Linked DNA regions of Homo sapiens. The protein of the gene in region 1 interacts with the protein of each later gene in a biochemical or structural test. Each region holds a gene or a part of one and is shown in the gene's direction. Other genes may lie near its edges. The genes, in order: FGG and ITGA2B.

What was found.
Region 2: the proteins of FGG (region 1) and ITGA2B interact in a test that uses a peptide from one of them, tested with the Homo sapiens proteins (one study listed by BioGRID).

What each region holds. Positions count from the first base shown.
Region 1 is NC_000004.12:154,599,250-154,611,361, reverse strand, and holds the end of FGG (fibrinogen gamma chain isoform gamma-B precursor), read left to right. Parts: intron 1-1,164; coding exon 1,165-1,295; intron 1,296-1,598; coding exon 1,599-1,732; intron 1,733-2,711; coding exon 2,712-2,896; intron 2,897-4,379; coding exon 4,380-4,657; intron 4,658-6,295; coding exon 6,296-6,528; 3' UTR 6,529-7,007; coding exon of another isoform or gene 7,008-7,022; 3' UTR 7,023-7,191; downstream 7,192-12,112. UniProt on the Homo sapiens protein: Together with fibrinogen alpha (FGA) and fibrinogen beta (FGB), polymerizes to form an insoluble fibrin matrix. Has a major function in hemostasis as one of the primary components of blood clots.
Region 2 is NC_000017.11:44,379,650-44,388,593, reverse strand, and holds part of ITGA2B (integrin alpha-IIb preproprotein), read left to right. Parts: intron 1-2,462; coding exon 2,463-2,584; intron 2,585-2,672; coding exon 2,673-2,770; intron 2,771-2,877; coding exon 2,878-3,043; intron 3,044-3,258; coding exon 3,259-3,308; intron 3,309-3,384; coding exon 3,385-3,430; intron 3,431-3,517; coding exon 3,518-3,646; intron 3,647-4,008; coding exon 4,009-4,056; intron 4,057-4,239; coding exon 4,240-4,283; intron 4,284-4,455; coding exon 4,456-4,509; intron 4,510-4,647; coding exon 4,648-4,700; intron 4,701-4,889; coding exon 4,890-5,101; intron 5,102-7,532; coding exon 7,533-7,715; intron 7,716-7,948; coding exon 7,949-7,994; intron 7,995-8,103; coding exon 8,104-8,208; intron 8,209-8,292; coding exon 8,293-8,348; intron 8,349-8,440; coding exon 8,441-8,592; intron 8,593-8,779; coding exon 8,780-8,905; intron 8,906-8,944. UniProt on the Homo sapiens protein: Integrin alpha-IIb/beta-3 is a receptor for fibronectin, fibrinogen, plasminogen, prothrombin, thrombospondin and vitronectin. It recognizes the sequence R-G-D in a wide array of ligands.

The sequences.
Region 1 (12,112 bases):
AGAAACATGTCTTGAGAGACTAAGTGTGGCAAATATTGCAAAGCTCATATTGATCATTGCAGAATGAACCTGCATAGTCTCTTCCCTTCATTTGGAAGTGAATGTCTCTGTTAAAGCTTCTCAGGGACTCATAAACTTTCTGAACATAAGGTCTCAGATACAGTTTTAATATTTTTCCCCAATTTTTTTTTCTGAATTTTTCTCAAAGCAGCTTGAGAAATTGAGATAAATAGTAGCTAGGGAGAAGTGGCCCAGGAAAGATTTCTCCTCTTTTTGCTATCAGAGGGCCCTTGTTATTATTGTTATTATTATTACTTGCATTATTATTGTCCATCATTGAAGTTGAAGGAGGTTATTGTACAGAAATTGCCTAAGACAAGGTAGAGGGAAAACGTGGACAAATAGTTTGTCTACCCTTTTTTACTTCAAAGAAAGAACGGTTTATGCATTGTAGACAGTTTTCTATCATTTTTGGATATTTGCAAGCCACCCTGTAAGTAACTACAAAAGGAGGGTTTTTACTTCCCCCAGTCCATTCCCAAAGCTATGTAACCAGAAGCATTAAAGAAGAAAGGGGAAGTATCTGTTGTTTTATTTTACATACAATAACGTTCCAGATCATGTCCCTGTGTAAGTTATATTTTAGATTGAAGCTTATATGTATAGCCTCAGTAGATCCACAAGTGAAAGGTATACTCCTTCAGCACATGTGAATTACTGAACTGAGCTTTTCCTGCTTCTAAAGCATCAGGGGGTGTTCCTATTAACCAGTCCCGCCACTCTTGCAGGTTGCTATCTGCTGTCCCTTATGCATAAAGTAAAAAGCAAAATGTCAATGACATTTGCTTATTGACAAGGACTTTGTTATTTGTGTTGGGAGTTGAGACAATATGCCCCATTCTAAGTAAAAAGATTCAGGTCCACATTGTATTCCTGTTTTAATTGATTTTTTGATTTGTTTTTCTTTTTCAAAAAGTTTATAATTTTAATTCATGTTAATTTAGTAATATAATTTTACATTTTCCTCAAGAATGGAATAATTTATCAGAAAGCACTTCTTAAGAAAATACTTAGCAGTTTCCAAAGAAAATATAAAATTACTCTTCTGAAAGGAATACTTATTTTTGTCTTCTTATTTTTGTTATCTTATGTTTCTGTTTGTAGATATTTGCAGGAAATATATAATTCAAATAATCAAAAGATTGTTAACCTGAAAGAGAAGGTAGCCCAGCTTGAAGCACAGTGCCAGGAACCTTGCAAAGACACGGTGCAAATCCATGATATCACTGGGAAAGGTAACTGATGAAGGTTATATTGGGATTAGGTTCATCAAAGTAAGTAATGTAAAGGAGAAAGTATGTACTGGAAAGTATAGGAATAGTTTAGAAAGTGGCTACCCATTAAGTCTAAGAATTTCAGTTGTCTAGACCTTTCTTGAATAGCTAAAAAAAACAGTTTAAAAGGAATGCTGATGTGAAAAGTAAGAAAATTATTCTTGGAAAATGAATAGTTTACTACATGTTAAAAGCTATTTTTCAAGGCTGGCACAGTCTTACCTGCATTTCAAACCACAGTAAAAGTCGATTCTCCTTCTCTAGATTGTCAAGACATTGCCAATAAGGGAGCTAAACAGAGCGGGCTTTACTTTATTAAACCTCTGAAAGCTAACCAGCAATTCTTAGTCTACTGTGAAATCGATGGGTCTGGAAATGGATGGACTGTGTTTCAGAAGGTAATTTTTTCCCCACCATGTGTATTTAATAAATTCCTACATTGTTTCTGCCATATGGCAGATACTTTTCTAAGCACCTTGTGAACCGTAGCTCATTTAATCCTTGCAATAGCCCTAAGAGGAAGGTACTTCTGTTACTCCTATTTACAGAAAAGGAAACTGAGGCACACAAGGTTAAATAACTTGCCCAAGACCACATAACTAATAAGCAACAGAGTCAGCATTTGAACCTAGGCAGTATAGTTTCAGAGTTTGTGACTTGACTCTATATTGTACTGGCACTGACTTTGTAGATTCATGGTGGCACATAATCATAGTACCACAGTGACAAATAAAAAGAAGGAAACTCTTTTGTCAGGTAGGTCAAGACCTGAGGTTTCCCATCACAAGATGAGGAAGCCCAACACCACCCCCCACCACCCCACCACCATCACCACCCTTTCACACACCAGAGGATACACTTGGGCTGCTCCAAGACAAGGAACCTGTGTTGCATCTGCCACTTGCTGATACCCACTAGGAATCTTGGCTCCTTTACTTTCTGTTTACCTCCCACCACTGTTATAACTGTTTCTACAGGGGGCGCTCAGAGGGAATGAATGGTGGAAGCATTAGTTGCCAGACACCGATTGAGCAATGGGTTCCATCATAAGTGTAAGAATCAGTAATATCCAGCTAGAGTTCTGAAGTCGTCTAGGTGTCTTTTTAATATTACCACTCATTTAGAATTTATGATGTGCCAGAAACCCTCTTAAGTATTTCTCTTATATTCTCTCTCATGATCCTTGCAGCAACCCTAAGAAGTAACCATCATTTTTCCTATTTGATACATGAGGAAACTGAGGTAGCTTGGCCAAGATCACTTAGTTGGGAGTTGATAGAACCAGTGCTCTGTATTTTTGACAAAATGTTGACAGCATTCTCTTTACATGCATTGATAGTCTATTTTCTCCTTTTGCTCTTGCAAATGTGTAATTAGAGACTTGATGGCAGTGTAGATTTCAAGAAAAACTGGATTCAATATAAAGAAGGATTTGGACATCTGTCTCCTACTGGCACAACAGAATTTTGGCTGGGAAATGAGAAGATTCATTTGATAAGCACACAGTCTGCCATCCCATATGCATTAAGAGTGGAACTGGAAGACTGGAATGGCAGAACCAGGTACTGTTTTGAAATGACTTCCAACTTTTTATTGTAAAGATTGCCTGGAATGTGCACTTTCCAACTATCAATAGACAATGGCAAATGCAGCCTGACAAATGCAAACAGCACATCCAGCCACCATTTTCTCCAGGAGTCTGTTTGGTTCTTGGGCAATCCAAAAAGGTAAATTCTATTCAGGATGAATCTAAGTGTATTGGTACAATCTAATTACCCTGGAACCATTCAGAGTAATAGCTAATTACTGAACTTTTAATCAGTCCCAGGAATTGAGCATAAAATTATAATTTTATCTAGTCTAAATTACTATTTCATGAAGCAGGTATTATTATTAATCCCATTTTATAGATTAACTTGCTCAAAGTCACATTGCTGATAAGTGGTAGAGGTAGAATTCAGACTCAAGTAGTTTAACTTTAGAGCCTGTCCTCTTAACAACTATCCTGGTTGAAAAGCAAATACAGCCTCTTCAGACTTCTCAGTGCCTTGATGGCCATTTATTCTGTCAAATCATGAGCTACCCTAAAAGTAAACCAGCTAGCTCTTTTGATGATCTAGAGGCTTCTTTTTGCTTGAGATATTTGAAGGTTTTAAGCATTGTTACCTAATTAAAATGCAGAAAAATATCCAACCCTCTTGTTATGTATAAGGAATAGTGAAATATATTGTCTTCAAACACATGGACTTTTTTTTATTGCTTGGTTGGTTTTTAATCCAGAAAGTGCTATAGTCAGTAGACCTTCTTCTAGGAAAGGACCTTCCATTTCCCAGCCACTGGAGATTAGAAAATAAGCTAAATATTTTCTGGAAATTTCTGTTCATTCATTAAGGCCCATCCTTTCCCCCACTCTATAGAAGTGTTGTCCACTTGCACAATTTTTTCCAGGAAAGAATCTCTCTAACTCCTTCAGCTCACATGCTTTGGACCACACAGGGAAGACTTTGATTGTGTAATGCCCTCAGAAGCTCTCCTTCTTGCCACTACCACACTGATTTGAGGAAGAAAATCCCTTTAGCACCTAACCCTTCAGGTGCTATGAGTGGCTAATGGAACTGTACCTCCTTCAAGTTTTGTGCAATAATTAAGGGTCACTCACTGTCAGATACTTTCTGTGATCTATGATAATGTGTGTGCAACACATAACATTTCAATAAAAGTAGAAAATATGAAATTAGAGTCATCTACACATCTGGATTTGATCTTAGAATGAAACAAGCAAAAAAGCATCCAAGTGAGTGCAATTATTAGTTTTCAGAGATGCTTCAAAGGCTTCTAGGCCCATCCCGGGAAGTGTTAATGAGCTGTGGACTGGTTCACATATCTATTGCCTCTTGCCAGATTTGCAAAAAACTTCACTCAATGAGCAAATTTCAGCCTTAAGAAACAAAGTCAAAAATTCCAAGGAAGCATCCTACGAAAGAGGGAACTTCTGAGATCCCTGAGGAGGGTCAGCATGTGATGGTTGTATTTCCTTCTTCTCAGTACTGCAGACTATGCCATGTTCAAGGTGGGACCTGAAGCTGACAAGTACCGCCTAACATATGCCTACTTCGCTGGTGGGGATGCTGGAGATGCCTTTGATGGCTTTGATTTTGGCGATGATCCTAGTGACAAGTTTTTCACATCCCATAATGGCATGCAGTTCAGTACCTGGGACAATGACAATGATAAGTTTGAAGGCAACTGTGCTGAACAGGATGGATCTGGTTGGTGGATGAACAAGTGTCACGCTGGCCATCTCAATGGAGTTTATTACCAAGGTATGTTTTCCTTTCTTAGATTCCAAGTTAATGTATAGTGTATACTATTTTCATAAAAAATAATAAATAGATATGAAGAAATGAAGAATAATTTATAAAGATAGTAGGGATTTTATCATGTTCTTTATTTCAACTAAGTTCTTTGAAACTGGAAGTGGATAATACCAAGTTCATGCCTAAAATTAGCCCTTCTAAAGAAATCCACCTGCTGCAAAATATCCAGTAGTTTGGCATTATATGTGAAACTATCACCATCATAGCTGGCACTGTGGGTTGTGGGATCTCCTTTAGACATACAACATAAATGATCTGGATGGATTAACATTACTACATGGATGCTTGTTGACACATTAACCTGGCTTCCCATGAGCTTTGTGTCAGATACACGCAGTGAACAGGTGTTTGGAGGAACAGAATAAAGAGAAGGCAAGCACTGGTAAGGGCAGGGGTTTGTGAAAGCTTGAGAGAAGAGACCAGTCTGAGGACAGTAGACACTTATTTTAGGATGGGGGTTGGATGAGGAGGCTATAGTTTGCTATAAGCTTGGAATGGTTTGGAACACTGGTTTCACTCACCTACCCAGCAGTTATGTGTGGGGAAGCCTTACCGATGCTAAAGGATCCATGTTACAATAATGGCATTATTTGGAAATCCCAGTGGTATTCCATGAATAAAACCACTATGAAGATAATCCCACTCAACAGACTCTCCGTTGGAGAAGGACAGCAACACCACCCTGGGAAAGCCAAACAGTCAGACCAGACCTGTTTAGCATCAGTAGGACTTCCCTACCATATCTGCTGGGTAGATGAGTGAAACCAGTGTTCCAAACCACTCCGGGCTTGTAGCAAACCATAGTCTCCTCATCTACCAAGATGAGCAACCTTACCTCCTGATGTCCTAGCCAATCACCAACTAGGAAACTTTGCACAGTTTATTTAAAGTAACAGTTTGATTTTCACAATATTTTTAAATTGGAGAAACATAACTTATCTTTGCACTCACAAACCACATAATGAGAAGAAACTCTAAGGGAAAATGCTTGATCTGTGTGACCCGGGGCGCCATGCCAGAGCTGTAGTTCATGCCAGTGTTGTGCTCTGACAAGCCTTTTACAGAATTACATGAGATCTGCTTCCCTAGGACAAGGAGAAGGCAAATCAACAGAGGCTGCACTTTAAAATGGAGACATAAAATAACATGCCAGAACCATTTCCTAAAGCTCCTCAATCAACCAACAAAATTGTGCTTTCAAATAACCTGAGTTGACCTCATCAGGAATTTTGTGGCTCCTTCTCTTCTAACCTGCCTGAAGAAAGATGGTCCACAGCAGCTGAGTCCGGGATGGATAAGCTTAGGGACAGAGGCCAATTAGGGAACTTTGGGTTTCTAGCCCTACTAGTAGTGAATAAATTTAAAGTGTGGATGTGACTATGAGTCACAGCACAGATGTTGTTTAATAATATGTTTATTTTATAAATTGATATTTTAGGAATCTTTGGAGATATTTTCAGTTAGCAGATAATACTATAAATTTTATGTAACTGGCAATGCACTTCGTAATAGACAGCTCTTCATAGACTTGCAGAGGTAAAAAGATTCCAGAATAATGATATGTACATCTACGACTTGTTTTAGGTGGCACTTACTCAAAAGCATCTACTCCTAATGGTTATGATAATGGCATTATTTGGGCCACTTGGAAAACCCGGTGGTATTCCATGAAGAAAACCACTATGAAGATAATCCCATTCAACAGACTCACAATTGGAGAAGGACAGCAACACCACCTGGGGGGAGCCAAACAGGTCAGACCAGAGCACCCTGCGGAAACAGAATATGACTCACTTTACCCTGAGGATGATTTGTAGAAAATTAACTGCTAACTTCTATTGACCCACAAAGTTTCAGAAATTCTCTGAAAGTTTCTTCCTTTTTTCTCTTACTATATTTATTGATTTCAAGTCTTCTATTAAGGACATTTAGCCTTCAATGGAAATTAAAACTCATTTAGGACTGTATTTCCAAATTACTGATATCAGAGTTATTTAAAAATTGTTTATTTGAGGAGATAACATTTCAACTTTGTTCCTAAATATATAATAATAAAATGATTGACTTTATTTGCATTTTTATGACCACTTGTCATTTATTTTGTCTTCGTAAATTATTTTCATTATATCAAATATTTTAGTATGTACTTAATAAAATAGGAGAACATTTTAGAGTTTCAAATTCCCAGGTATTTTCCTTGTTTATTACCCCTAAATCATTCCTATTTAATTCTTCTTTTTAAATGGAGAAAATTATGTCTTTTTAATATGGTTTTTGTTTTGTTATATATTCACAGGCTGGAGACGTTTAAAAGACCGTTTCAAAAGAGATTTACTTTTTTAAAGGACTTTATCTGAACAGAGAGATATAATATTTTTCCTATTGGACAATGGACTTGCAAAGCTTCACTTCATTTTAAGAGCAAAAGACCCCATGTTGAAAACTCCATAACAGTTTTATGCTGATGATAATTTATCTACATGCATTTCAATAAACCTTTTGTTTCCTAAGACTAGATACATGGTACCTTTATTGACCATTAAAAACCACCACTTTTTGCCAATTTACCAATTACAATTGGGCAACCATCAGTAGTAATTGAGTCCTCATTTTATGCTAAATGTTATGCCTAACTCTTTGGGAGTTACAAAGGAAATAGCAATTATGGCTTTTGCCCTCTAGGAGATACAGGACAAATACAGGAAAATACAGCAACCCAAACTGACAATACTCTATACAAGAACATAATCACTAAGCAGGAGTCACAGCCACACAACCAAGATGCATAGTATCCAAAGTGCAGCTGGAGACAGGAAAGCTGCTTGGGGAGTCTCCCAGCAGAACCTTTTAGCTCCAAACACCTGTGGTGGGACCTGGTCACTCTGAAAGGACTGCAACTCAGAGCAGAGAGCTTTAGGGAGCTATTTGCCCTATCTCTCACTAGTCATGAGGTGAGCTGAATGGAACCATCTCTTCCTTCTGATTCAGGGATATTGACTTTTTAGCAGCCTGAGTTCAGGTTCATTCGCCAACTTTCTAAGGAATAGCTAAATCTACATAACTTAGCAAAAGGCTGACTGTGGGAAGTAATTGGCTAATTTTATGAGGTGGGTCTGGTTGTTCCGAAGTCCTGAGCTTTGGCTTTGCACTCTCTTTCTTTTCACACTTCTTTCTTTCTTCTTGCCTTTCCTTTTTTTTTTTGGATATAGGGTCTCACTCTGTCACCCAGTCTGTAATGCAGTGGCACAACAGTAGCTCACTGCAGCCAGCCTTGAACTCCTGGGCTCAAGTGATCCTCCTTCCTCAGCCTCCCGAGTAGCTGTGACTACAGGAGTGCACCATCACACCTGCCTAATTTTTCTTTAATTTTTATTTTTGTAGAGAAAGAGTCTCACTGTGTTGCCCAGGCTGGTCTCAAATGCCTGGCCTCAAGGGATCCTCCTGCCTCGGCCTCCAAAAGTGCTGGGATTACAGGCATGAGCTACCATGCCAGGCCCACAATTTCCTTCTTAATCTTTTCACTTTCTTGTTATCAGGAGTGCTGAATTTAAGATATCCTATTGAAGAGATAAAAACAGTAAGTCAGCTTCTAGATATACAACCGAAGACGTGGGAGGCTTTGGAAAATAGAAACATTGATTCATTGTTTGCAGCCTTCATATATACATGTATGCATGAAGCACTTATTCAATTAACATTTATTGAATGCCTTCCTTGTGGTAGCCATTGTGTTGGATTTGGGGATATAGTACATGGTATGCTTAGTGTTCTCCACTCTCCCAAACCTGTTCTACTCCATCCAGTCCTCAAATGCAAAAAAAACAGTGACTCATCCTCCAATCTTCCTCCCCATATCCAATTTCTACCTCCCTATATCCAATTACTCATCAAGCCTGCTGAATTCACCTCCTATATATTTATCATATTCACTTTTTTCCTGTATACCGATTGTCACCTTTGTAGTTGAGATACATCTCTTGCCAGGATAAGGGCAATCACCCACTTCCTGTTCCCTTTCTTACATCCAGCCTCTCCTGCTACCATCTCATCCTCCTCCAAACCACTTCTAAAGCCAGAATGCATACAGTTTACCCTTTGTGAACCTATAAAATCCTTTGTGTGAGCAATCTGGTCATAGCTACAAAGAGATATACAATATTCATGAGTTTTCATGCAATATCACTCTAGTGATTTATCCCAAGAAAATCATTTTTAAAAAAGAAAATAGTTATATACAGAAATAAAAATATAGATGTAAATTTCATATTAGTAGGAAATTAAGAAAATATTTAACAGTGGAAGAATGGACAAGCAAGATAGCTTATTAGTAAATAAAATAGAATATAAGGATTATATAAGCACAATAGCTTTTTATGAATATGGAAATATTTACAAAATAAGTGAAATTTTAAGATGTAAGAATAATTCTAAAATAAAAATTATGTAAAGTTGTATATACATATACTTCATGAACAAAATATAATCTTGACATATATCCTTATTTGTACATACTCGTTCTCCTGTCAACCAATCCACAATATATAATTACATGAAAATTCTAAAACATGGCTGGACATGATGGCTCACACTTGTAATCTCAGCACTTGGGAGGCCAAGGTGGGAAGATCACTTGAGCCCAGGAGTTTGAGACCAGCCTGGGCGAAATGGTAAAACCGTCTCCATAAAAAATACCAAAAAATGTTAGCCAGGCATGGTGGTGCACACCCGTAGTCATAGCTACCAGGAAAACTGAGGTGGGAGGATCACTTGAGCCTGGGGAATTGAGCCTGCAGTGAGCCGTGATTGTGCTGCTGCACTCCAACCTGGGCAACAGAGTGAGTGAGACCTTGTCTCAAAAACAAAAAAATACTAAAACACAAAATAAATATAAGGAAGTCTAAAGATTCCTGATGTCTCCCATTATCACTTGTCCAATTCTTCTTCTGAAATATCAAATATAGCATTCTTTCAAAAACATTTAGGAGTCTCCTGATTTTTGTAGGTATCCTGAGTACAAGCTTGATCTGCATGTTGAATAATCCAGCATTCATTGGTAGAAAGAGGCTACTAACTTTTTCTTTAGATATCTCTGCATTGTTTGGCTTGTTATAACGAGTACATATTAATTTTGTGGTTCACTTTGCAACCCAGTGAGGCAGAGACAAAAAAAAGAATTTCAAAATTCTACTTGTTTAGTTATTAATATCCAGCGGTGAGCACTGAAAGCCTACAGTAAGAACTAAAGCATGAAAAACCCTTCTAGACTCAGTTGCATCATGTCTCCTCAAATAAAGTGGCAATTGAAAGGGTTATGTTGAGAAATCAACCAAAAAAACCTTTTAAGTGAAAAAAAGAGTTTGGGGTCTCCCAGAGACAGATTATATATTTTTTTCACAGCTCAAATCACAGGTGACTATTGCTAAGCCCTCCTCTTTATTTTCCCGGACACAGAAAAACTCTAGTCACTGAAAAGTAGTGAGGCGAAGTGCAAAGCAGATGTGTAGTGTCTTACACCGTGACAAACCTATGGAGGGAAGCATCTACAAAGGAAGAGATCAGGTGTAGTGATACTGTGACTTTAAACCATACAACTACAGAGCAGAGTTCTTGAATCAACAGAGAGGGTGATGACTTCCTGACCAAATACCAAGATTTTAAAATATACCTGTGAAGATTCTGTTTCATACCTGTGGGTGGGTTGAAAGTGAGCGAGAAATGAAAAAATAAATGTATGGACAGCATAGTTGAAATCTTTCCAAGATCCAAAATTCTTTTGCTCTGATTCTAATTAGTATAAACTAGCCAAGGTATTTATAATAGATACCTTCAGTTTATTCAGATGAAAAGGGTGAAAACAAAATACACATTTAACCCTGTGGGAAATATGTGTACCCGTTGATTTCTTATCACTTTGATGTAGCTCAAAGAGGGAGAAAAAGTTAAAGATAGTAAGATGAGTCAAAGTGGATGGAAAATAATAAGCTGCTTTGGGAGGCCGAGGCGGGCAGATCATGAAGTCAAGAGATCGAGACCATCCTGGCCAACATGGTGAAACCCCGTCTCTACTAAAAATACCAAAAAATTAGCCGGGCGTGGTGGTGCACACCTGTAGTCCCAGCTACTTGGGAGGCTGAGGCAAGAGAATCACTTGAACCCAGGAGGCGAAGGTTGCAGTGAGCCAAGATCACACTCCAGCCTGGGCAACAGAGGGACACTCCATCTCAAAATAAATAAATAAATAAGTTGGTGAAAGAGACCAAGAGTGTGGGAAAGACTACGTTTCATTTATCTCTTTGTGTTTGTGCATGTGTGTGTGTGTGTGTGTGTGCGTGTATGCGTGCAGAGACAGAAGTTGTTACCACACTCCCAGTACATCATTCTCATTGCTCTGTTGATTGATTGATTCTCATTTATTCACATTTCCTTTTTGTTCCATCTTCCCCTTAATAAACAATCACCTTAATAGGTTTGATATTTGTTTCTTTATTTGTATGCATTCTTATAAATCATGGTTTTTTTGTGTGTGTATGTATTTTTAAATTATGCAAATGACATTATGCTATAAGTTAGTGTTACTTAGAATACTGGTCCCGAAACTTCTGTTACTTTTCTGCACTAAGTACAAAAATTGAGAATTAGCAGGGAGAAACTTTTTCCTATGTTATATTTGTTCTGATATACTTACTGAGATAGAATTTTATATCTTTCAAATCTCATAATAAAAATATGGGCCTATATTTTGAATATCATTGCTTTTTAACATTTCATTTTTTTAGTAATTATTTTTATTGAATTCTATAAAAACCTGGTCTGTGGCTGATTAGAATTTTAATAAAACTAGTCCTTCACCACAAATCCTTTGACAATCACTGCTGAAGTCTTCATCATACTTACTACTTTTTTATTTCAGCATTGTGTTTTTAAGATCTATCCACACATGAATTTGTGGTTTGAAAGCAGAATGAAAAGGAAAAAAAAAAGATCTATCTACAATCTGAGTATTTCATAATTTTCCTTGATTTCCTTTTGAACCCAAGGGTTATGAAGTGAACACTTTTTGGTTCTAAAGTTTATGAGTTTTTCAACGGTCTATTTTTAATTATTATCTAAATTTATTGCATTATAATCAGAGAACATAGTTTTGATGATATTGATTCTCAGGAGAGAGATTTCACAAATTATTTTGGAACAAATGTTTGTTACAGAATTAACTCACCCCATAAAAGTGTACATCAGTTGTAATTATTCTCCACTAATGATCTATATACTGGAAGCCTGTTAATATTTTTTGCTTTGAGAAGGAAAAAAACACCAGGCATGGTGGCTCACACTTATGATCCCAGCACTTTGGGAGGCCAAGGCAGGAGGATCACTTGAGCCCAGGAGTTCCAGATCATTCTG
Region 2 (8,944 bases), on another chromosome or scaffold:
TGAGCTGAGATCATGCCACTGCACTCCAGCCTGGGTGACAGAGTGACACTCCGTCTCAAAAAAAAAAAAATTAGCCGGGCGTGGTGCCGCATGCTTGTAATCCCAGCTACTCGGGAGGCTGAGGCAGGAGAATCGTTTGAACCTGAGAGGCAGAGGTTGTGGTGAGCCGAGATCATGCCATTGCACTCCAGCCTGGGCAACGAGAGCGAAACTCTGTCTCAAAAAAAAAAAAAAAAAAAAAAGAAAGGAAATGTGGAGAGGAGCACATGTCCTAAATTGATTTGCAGAACTAAAGTTGTCTACCCTCCCGCACCTTGCATTTCTGTTCCATTTCCCTCATCTCCATCAACATTATAAATATTTGAAAAGAAGCAATAGGTCATTAATGATTAGTATTGATCAGGCTTCAGAATCAAGAGTGCCAAGATTAGAGTCTTGGCTCCTCCTCTTCATAGCGTGTACCCTGAGCTACTATTGTGAGAGACACTGTGCCCACCAGCTTCAGGGAGTGGCAATGGGTGGCAATGGCAGATAGCCTTCAAGTGTCAGCCACTTAGGGGATTTCCTCTGCTGAAGAGAGCCAGTTCACTCCAAGTCCCCTCCCAAGATGGCCCACATCCAGTGTCTGATCAATGAGAAGTGGGTGAGTGGGGAGAGTGGAGGCAGGTGTGGGGGAGGCATTTGATAAGGGTCCAGCCCTCTTTCATCAACTCTGACAATTCTTTTTTTCTTCTTCTTCTTTTTTTTTTTTTTTTTTTTTTTTTTTTGAGATGGGGTTTCGCTCTTGTTGCCCAGGCTGGAGTGCAATGGCACAATCACTGGCTCACCGCAACTTCTGCCTCCCGGGTTCAAGCGATTCTCCTGCCACAGCCTCCCGCGTAGCTGGGATTACAGGCATGTGCCACCACACCCGGCTAATTTTGTATTTTTAGTAGAGACGAGGTTTCTCCATGTTGGTCAGGGTGGTCTCGAACTCCCAACTTCAGGTGATCCACCCGCCTTGGCCTCCCAAAGTGCTGGGATTACAGGCTTCAGCCACCATGCCCAGACTTTTTTTCTTCTTTTTTTTTGAGATGGAGTTTCGCTCTCGTTGCCCAGGCTGGAGTGCAATGGGGTGATCTCGGCTCACTGCAACCTCTGCCTCCTGGGTTCAAACGATTCTCCTGTCTCAGCCTCCCGAGTAGCTGGGATTACAGGTGCATGCCACCATGCCCGGCTAATTTTTGTATTTTTAGTAGAGACAGGGTTTCACTATGTTGGCCAGGCTGGTCTCAAACTCCTGACCTCAGGTGATCAGCCTGCCTCGGCCTCCCAAAGTACTGGGATTACAGGCGTGAGCCACCACACCCGGCCAACTCTGACAATTTTGAAGGGTCATTCTAGTTCCAAAGCTCGTGGGGTGTTGGCGAATGCTGTCATTGGGCCTGAATCAGCTCAACTCCTTCCTGTGCCCACTCCTGCTGATTTCCCCTCCTATAAGTAGTGATCCCATTGGCACTACTTAAACATCCTGCAGGCTAAAAAAATATTATGGGCCAGACACAGAGGCTCACGCCTGTAATCCCTTGGCCTCCCAAAGTGCTGGGATTACAGGTGTGAGCCACCATGCCCAGCCTATAAAAAAATTTTTTTTAATTAGCCAGGCATGGTGTTGCACACCCGCAGTCCCAGCTACTAGGGTGGCTGAGGGGAGAGGATTGCTTGAGCCCTGGAGATCAAGGCTACAGTGAGCTGTGATCATGCTGCTGCACTCCAGCTGGGCAACAGAATGAGACCCTGTCTCAAAACAACAAAATTATTTTTTAAAATTATAGCATTGTTTCAAGAGCGTTTGTTATGTATTTGGCTGGGACCATGCTAACCGTTACTCGTATTTATTACATTTACTCCTGACAGCATTGACTGGTTGTGAAAACCAGTCATTGGTTATGAAATTGGTATTCCTATTTCACATATGGCAGAATTGTGATTTAAACCTAGATCTGCTAGGGTCCTCCTATCAGCACACACACTCCAGCCCCACTTTAGAGGTACCCGCTACCTTCCCTCATTAAAACCAGCTCTCAAGAGGGGATCTGGTAACAGTCTAGGCAGGCATTCCAGGGAGCATGTGAACCGCTGGTTCTTGTTGCGGGTGGAAGGATGGAGGTGTTGTACAGAGTTTAGGTCTTTTTCAGCAAAGATCTCAAACCCCTGGTGTTCAAATCAAACCAAATGGTTATAGTCCCAGCTCTACTCTCAACTCACTGGGTTACTTTAGCCACGTGATTGCCCTCGCTGAGAGTCGGTTTCACTGTCCATAAGATGAAGAAGTACATCACGGTGGTCTGTGAGGTGTCATTGAGGAAAGATGGTCCAGTGCCCCCATGCCACATGGCCTTCCGGGCAGTGCTCCCAGCGCCGGCGCCAGGGCCTGGGATACGCTGGAATCTGCGCGGCGCTCACCCAGCTTTCCTATGCAGAGTGGCCATCGTGGTGGGCGCCCCGCGGACCCTGGGCCCCAGCCAGGAGGAGACGGGCGGCGTGTTCCTGTGCCCCTGGAGGGCCGAGGGCGGCCAGTGCCCCTCGCTGCTCTTTGACCTCCGTGAGTCCCAGGCAAGGAGAGCAAGGTTGGGGTCAGAGGGACGTGGACTGCCGGGCTTCAGCGCCCCACCCCTTCTTGTGCCTTCCAGGTGATGAGACCCGAAATGTAGGCTCCCAAACTTTACAAACCTTCAAGGCCCGCCAAGGACTGGGGGCGTCGGTCGTCAGCTGGAGCGACGTCATTGTGGTGGGCCCCGCGGTACAGGGCACAGGGAACAATCGGGGGCAGGGACACCTGGGGCCAGGAGGAGCCCAAGTCTCGCGCCCGTCCCCACTCCTGTGGCCTTTCTCCAGGCCTGCGCCCCCTGGCAGCACTGGAACGTCCTAGAAAAGACTGAGGAGGCTGAGAAGACGCCCGTAGGTAGCTGCTTTTTGGCTCAGCCAGAGAGCGGCCGCCGCGCCGAGTACTCCCCCTGTCGCGGGAACACCCTGAGCCGCATTTACGTGGAAAATGATTTTAGTAAGCGCCAGCTACGACCTGGCCCCGCCCACTCGCGACGGCTTGGCCCCGCCCCCATCGGATCCCGCCCCCAGCGCCGCAGCCCTTGCTTTGGATCTGGCCTCGCCCCAGGGCCCCGCCGACTCAAGGCCCCGCCCCTGTCCCCCAGCCCTCCTCCGGGCTCGCGCGCGCCTCCCTTCACCCCTGCGCTGACCCCTCCTCCTTGTCTCCTGCAGGCTGGGACAAGCGTTACTGTGAAGCGGGCTTCAGCTCCGTGGTCACTCAGGCGAGTAGGGAGCAAAAGCGCAGTGGGGGCGGCTCCCAAACAGGGCCCCCTCTCACCCTCAGGACTTCCCTTCCAGGCCGGAGAGCTGGTGCTTGGGGCTCCTGGCGGCTATTATTTCTTAGGTACGTGCCCATCCGTACACCTCCCTCCCTTCTCGCGGCCCAAGGAGACCGCTTTGGGCTTCACACCCGCTGTCCCTCCCGCCCTAGGTCTCCTGGCCCAGGCTCCAGTTGCGGATATTTTCTCGAGTTACCGCCCAGGCATCCTTTTGTGGCACGTGTCCTCCCAGAGCCTCTCCTTTGACTCCAGCAACCCAGAGTACTTCGACGGCTACTGGGGTAACACCGCCATTCCAGACTTCCAGCACCCCGAGGGTCACCGCCCACCGCAGACGGTCAGGTCCTGCCCCTGTGGGAGCCTCCATGGCCACCCCTGCCGGCCAACCCACCGCCTAAGCCGCTCCCGCCCTCCGCTCCTGCGGCTTCCCCGCAGACCGCCCACCTCCCATGCGCCCACCGCTCCCTTCCACTGCGGACTCGTAGCGCAGCCTGGGGCAGGGCTTGGCCCCTCGAAGGCCTCCGTTTTTCCATCTGCACAATGCAGGGCTGGGGCTGAGTGGCCTTAATCTCCTCCTTCTTTGCCCTCCGTCCCCTCTGTGCTTCCTCCCCTGGAAAAGACTAATTTGCGCCCTTGTCCTCAGGGTACTCGGTGGCCGTGGGCGAGTTCGACGGGGATCTCAACACTACAGGCAAGAAATCCACTTAGGGCGGGAGTTGGGTAGCCCAGCCCGGGGAGGAGCGCCTTCCTGAAATCTCCCCTATGTAGGGAAATCTTCCTGCACACACATTTTTCCCTGGGTGCAGAACGGGGAGCGGGAAGTGGGTAGGTTCTAAGGCTCTCATTCCCTGAGCCTGGCTCTCCCTATCGCCAGAATATGTCGTCGGTGCCCCCACTTGGAGCTGGACCCTGGGAGCGGTAAGTGCCCCCACCACTGGGCCTCCCGAAGCCCCTTATCCCAGTTCTCAGGCTGACAACTCCTGAGCGCCCCCCACCCCCGCCCCGCCTCCACCAAACCACCCTTTCTCACCTGGAGTGGGAGGTTGCTTTGGGTACAAGAATGATGCTCTCGCCTGCGCTGTCCGTGCAGGTGGAAATTTTGGATTCCTACTACCAGAGGCTGCATCGGCTGCGCGGAGAGCAGGTGGGGGCCAGGTCCCAGTGGGCGTGGCTGGGTGGAGGGGGAACTGAGACTTCAGAATATTTCATGGGAGGTGAGGGCCCATTTCTTAAAGAGGATGCTTGTCCAGCGGCGTGAATGATGGTGCTCCTCATCTTGCAGATGGCGTCGTATTTTGGGCATTCAGTGGCTGTCACTGACGTCAACGGGGATGGGTGAGGAGGGACATGCCCCACCCCTACCCAGTTGGGTCCCAAATTACCAGAGCTGCCCTCTGTCTCCCTTTCCTAGCCCTAGTCTCACGTATCCACTGGAGGAACAGGAGAGCAAGGGTCGAGGAGATTTGGCCCTAGCCCCAATATACCCCTGGTCCAGTCCCATGTAACCACTCATCTGGCCCACAGGAGGCATGATCTGCTGGTGGGCGCTCCACTGTATATGGAGAGCCGGGCAGACCGAAAACTGGCCGAAGTGGGGCGTGTGTATTTGTTCCTGCAGCCGCGAGGCCCCCACGCGCTGGGTGCCCCCAGCCTCCTGCTGACTGGCACACAGCTCTATGGGCGATTCGGCTCTGCCATCGCACCCCTGGGCGACCTCGACCGGGATGGCTACAATGGTGAGGGAAGAGAGGAGCCCTACTTGCTGCAGAGGGGTTAACAGCCACTCAAAAAGCATGGAGTTGGCCTGAGGGCAGCCAGAACCAGGATGGGTTTTAAGCATATAAGTATGTGGCTTAGACACATGGGGTGCTGAGTGGAGAGCAGATGGGAGAGTTGAAGACTAATTAGGAAGTGTTTGCCTTAATCCAAGCAAGAGACAATGACCACCTGGATGTGGATTTTGGCAGTGGAGTTAGAGATGGGAGTGACTTCACAGATATTTAGGACTCGGATTATTAGGACTTGGTGGGAGACTGGATGTGGGGCCAGGGGAGAGGTTGGAGTTGGGTGCCTGTGATGGCCTCCACTGCCTGGAACTCAGGCCGTGCAGCAGGTGCTGGGGAGAGGCGGGAGATCAGCAGTTCAGCTCTGGACCTGTTGAGCTTGAAGGGCTTGGGTGCTTTAGGCGGAAATATCCAAAGAACAGTTGGGAGTGGCTCTCCCCGCTTCCACAAGAGAGATCTGAATGGGAGACAGGGGTTTGGGGAAAGTGGATGAGGTCCCGGGACCTGTGAAATAAGAGGCCCAGGATAGAGCCCTAGGGAGCAAAAGCATTTAGGTGACTCCTACAGGAGGTAAGTCTGAGAAGGAGACAGAGGAGTGTCCAGAGAGGGAGGAGGGAACCCAGGGGGTCTGATGGCCCGGGACTCAAGGAAGAGCATGCGTTAAAGAGCATGCACAGGAGGAAGTGGGCGCTGCAGCTCCTGCTGCTGCTGCAAGATACAATTAGGTGGGGCTGGAGAAATATTCATGGGCTTTAGCAAGAAGAGGGTGCCAGGCATGGTGGCTCATACCTGTAATCCCAGCTACTTGGGAAATTGAAGCAGGAGAATCTCTTGAACCCGGGAAGTGGAGGTTGCACTGAGCTGAGCTTGCGCCACTACTGCACTCCAGCCTGGGTGACAGAGCAAGACTCCATCTCAACAAAATAAAAAAAAAAATAGAGAAAGAAAGGAAGAAAGAAAAAAGAAGGGGAGGTTATTGGTGACAGTGACATAAATTGATTCAGGCCAAGATAGGGTCAGAAGCCAGAATGCAATGGGGTAAGGTATGAATGGAGATGAAAAATTGGATGCAGCTAATGTAGACAGCTCTTTCAACAGGTTTGTGGTAAAAAGGAATTTGAGGAATAGAAAGGAAAAAAAAAAACATGTTTGACTATAAGAGGAAAAAGAGAAAAGGTGATCACAGAAAAGAGATGAGGGTCAAGGGAAGATTATTTCAATGTGGAAGAACATGTAGTAGGTTGAAAATGATGTTGTGGGGAAATGGGGGGATGAGCCAGCAGAGAGTCCCTGTGATGCCTCAGGGGGTGGGAGGGTGACTGGCCCAGTGTCAGGGTGAAGGAAGGAAACCTCTTCCAGGGTCAAATGGGGAAAGGGAAAAGAAAGTTGGTGTGGGATTATAGCATAACAGTGGGCTGCCTCTCTTCCTGAAGTAAGAGATTACGTCACCTGCTGAAGGAAGTGTGGGGGGTCTGGGAGTTTGATGGAATGGAGAAGGCTAGAAATAGATGCTAGATGGCCAGGCACGGTGGCTCACACCTGGAATCCCAGCACTTTGGGAGGCCGAGGCAGGAGGATCACTGGAGCCTAGGAGTTTGACACCAGCCTGGCCAACATAGGGAGATCTCGTCTCCATAAAAATTTTTAAAAATTAGCTGGGCATGGTGGCTATAGTCTCAACTGCTTGGGAAGCTGAGGTGGGAGGATTGCTTTAGTCCAGAAGGTTGAGGCTGCAGTAAGCCATGGTTGCACCACTGCACTTCAGCCTGAATGACAGTGCAAGACTGTCTTAAAAATAAAAAAATTTTAAAAGGGGCTTGGGCACGGTGGCTCACACCTGTAATCCCAGCACTTTGGGAGCCCAAGGTGGGCAGATCACTTGAGGTCAGGAGTTCGAGATCAGCCTGGCCAATGTGGTGAAACCCCGTCTCTACTGAAAATACAAAAATTAGCCGGGCATGGTGGTAGGCGCCTGTAATCCCAGCTACTGAAGAGGCTGAGGCACAAGAATCACTTTAACGGGGGAGGCAGAGGTTGCAGTGAGCCGAGATCGCACCACTGCACTCCAGCCAGGACAACAGAGCGAGACTCCATCTCAAAAAAAAAAAAATTTAGAAAAGGGAATAATGATGCTTAATTTTCAGGATATATTTTCCTCAATAGACAGTGAGAGTTGTCACTGTTTTTATAACAATCCTACTTGGCAGGTCCCTCTCCCACCTGATTGTTAACTCCTGGAGGGTAGGGCAGTGCCTCCTTCACCCACACTTTGCACCCCTTTCCTAGTCTCCTGGGATGTTCCCAGAGAAGCTCAGGAAAGTTTTACAGTCATCTAGGGAGGCTGAATAACAATCAGCCACTTCCTTTCTGTTACTCCTTCCAGACATTGCAGTGGCTGCCCCCTACGGGGGTCCCAGTGGCCGGGGCCAAGTGCTGGTGTTCCTGGGTCAGAGTGAGGGGCTGAGGTCACGTCCCTCCCAGGTCCTGGACAGCCCCTTCCCCACAGGCTCTGCCTTTGGCTTCTCCCTTCGAGGTGCCGTAGACATCGATGACAACGGATACCCAGGTGCCCTGGACTGCCTCCAGCTAGAAATGCCCAAGAAAGGCCCTTGGACATTCGCTGGAAGTGCCAAGAGACACGGCCAGGGGCTCATGCCTGGCCTGGTGTCCCACTATGGACTGCCAGAGGGGCTGGGTGAAACCTCCAGTGGGGGAGGTGGTGTGGGGAACCCCTGGGAAGATGAGATGAGGATCCCATGCCCTAATCGCCAATTCTGACCCATTCCTCGATGTCTATAGACCTGATCGTGGGAGCTTACGGGGCCAACCAGGTGGCTGTGTACAGGTGAGCACTGGCTCCAGGGGCGGGATGGGGAAGGTCCTGTGCCATCAAGAGGAGGCCAGGCCAGGAGGAGCCACAATGGCAAGCCTACCCCATCACCCTATCCCATCAGAGCTCAGCCAGTGGTGAAGGCCTCTGTCCAGCTACTGGTGCAAGATTCACTGAATCCTGCTGTGAAGAGCTGTGTCCTACCTCAGACCAAGACACCCGTGAGCTGGTGAGGAGGCAGAGGGCATGGGCCTTAAAGGATCTGGGACCTCAGAAAGGCTCCAACCCCTGAGCCCCACTTACGTCTTTGCAGCTTCAACATCCAGATGTGTGTTGGAGCCACTGGGCACAACATTCCTCAGAAGCTATGTGAGTGGCATGAAGGGGGCAGGAGGGAGGTGGGCTTGGACTCCCCCGGAGGCTGGCCAGGGAGGTCCTGACTCTTCTGCTTGCCCTGCCAGCCCTAAATGCCGAGCTGCAGCTGGACCGGCAGAAGCCCCGCCAGGGCCGGCGGGTGCTGCTGCTGGGCTCTCAACAGGCAGGCACCACCCTGAACCTGGATCTGGGCGGAAAGCACAGCCCCATCTGCCACACCACCATGGCCTTCCTTCGAGTACGCCCAGGCAGGGGATTGGCAGGGCTGGGAGAGTAGAACTTACCCACTGGACTTGTTCATCTAGCCCTGGGGCACTGAGCTGGGTGCTGTGAGTCCGGGGGTGGTCAGGACACGGTGCCTACTGGCCAGGAGAAGGTGGGATGTGTATGGTAGCAAGATGGCCTGACTCTTGCCCCTGTCCTAGGATGAGGCAGACTTCCGGGACAAGCTGAGCCCCATTGTGCTCAGCCTCAATGTGTCCCTACCGCCCACGGAGGCTGGAATGGCCCCTGCTGTCGTGCTGCATGGAGACACCCATGTGCAGGAGCAGGTAGGGACAGGCAGGGACAGGCCAGGGAGGTGCAGGACC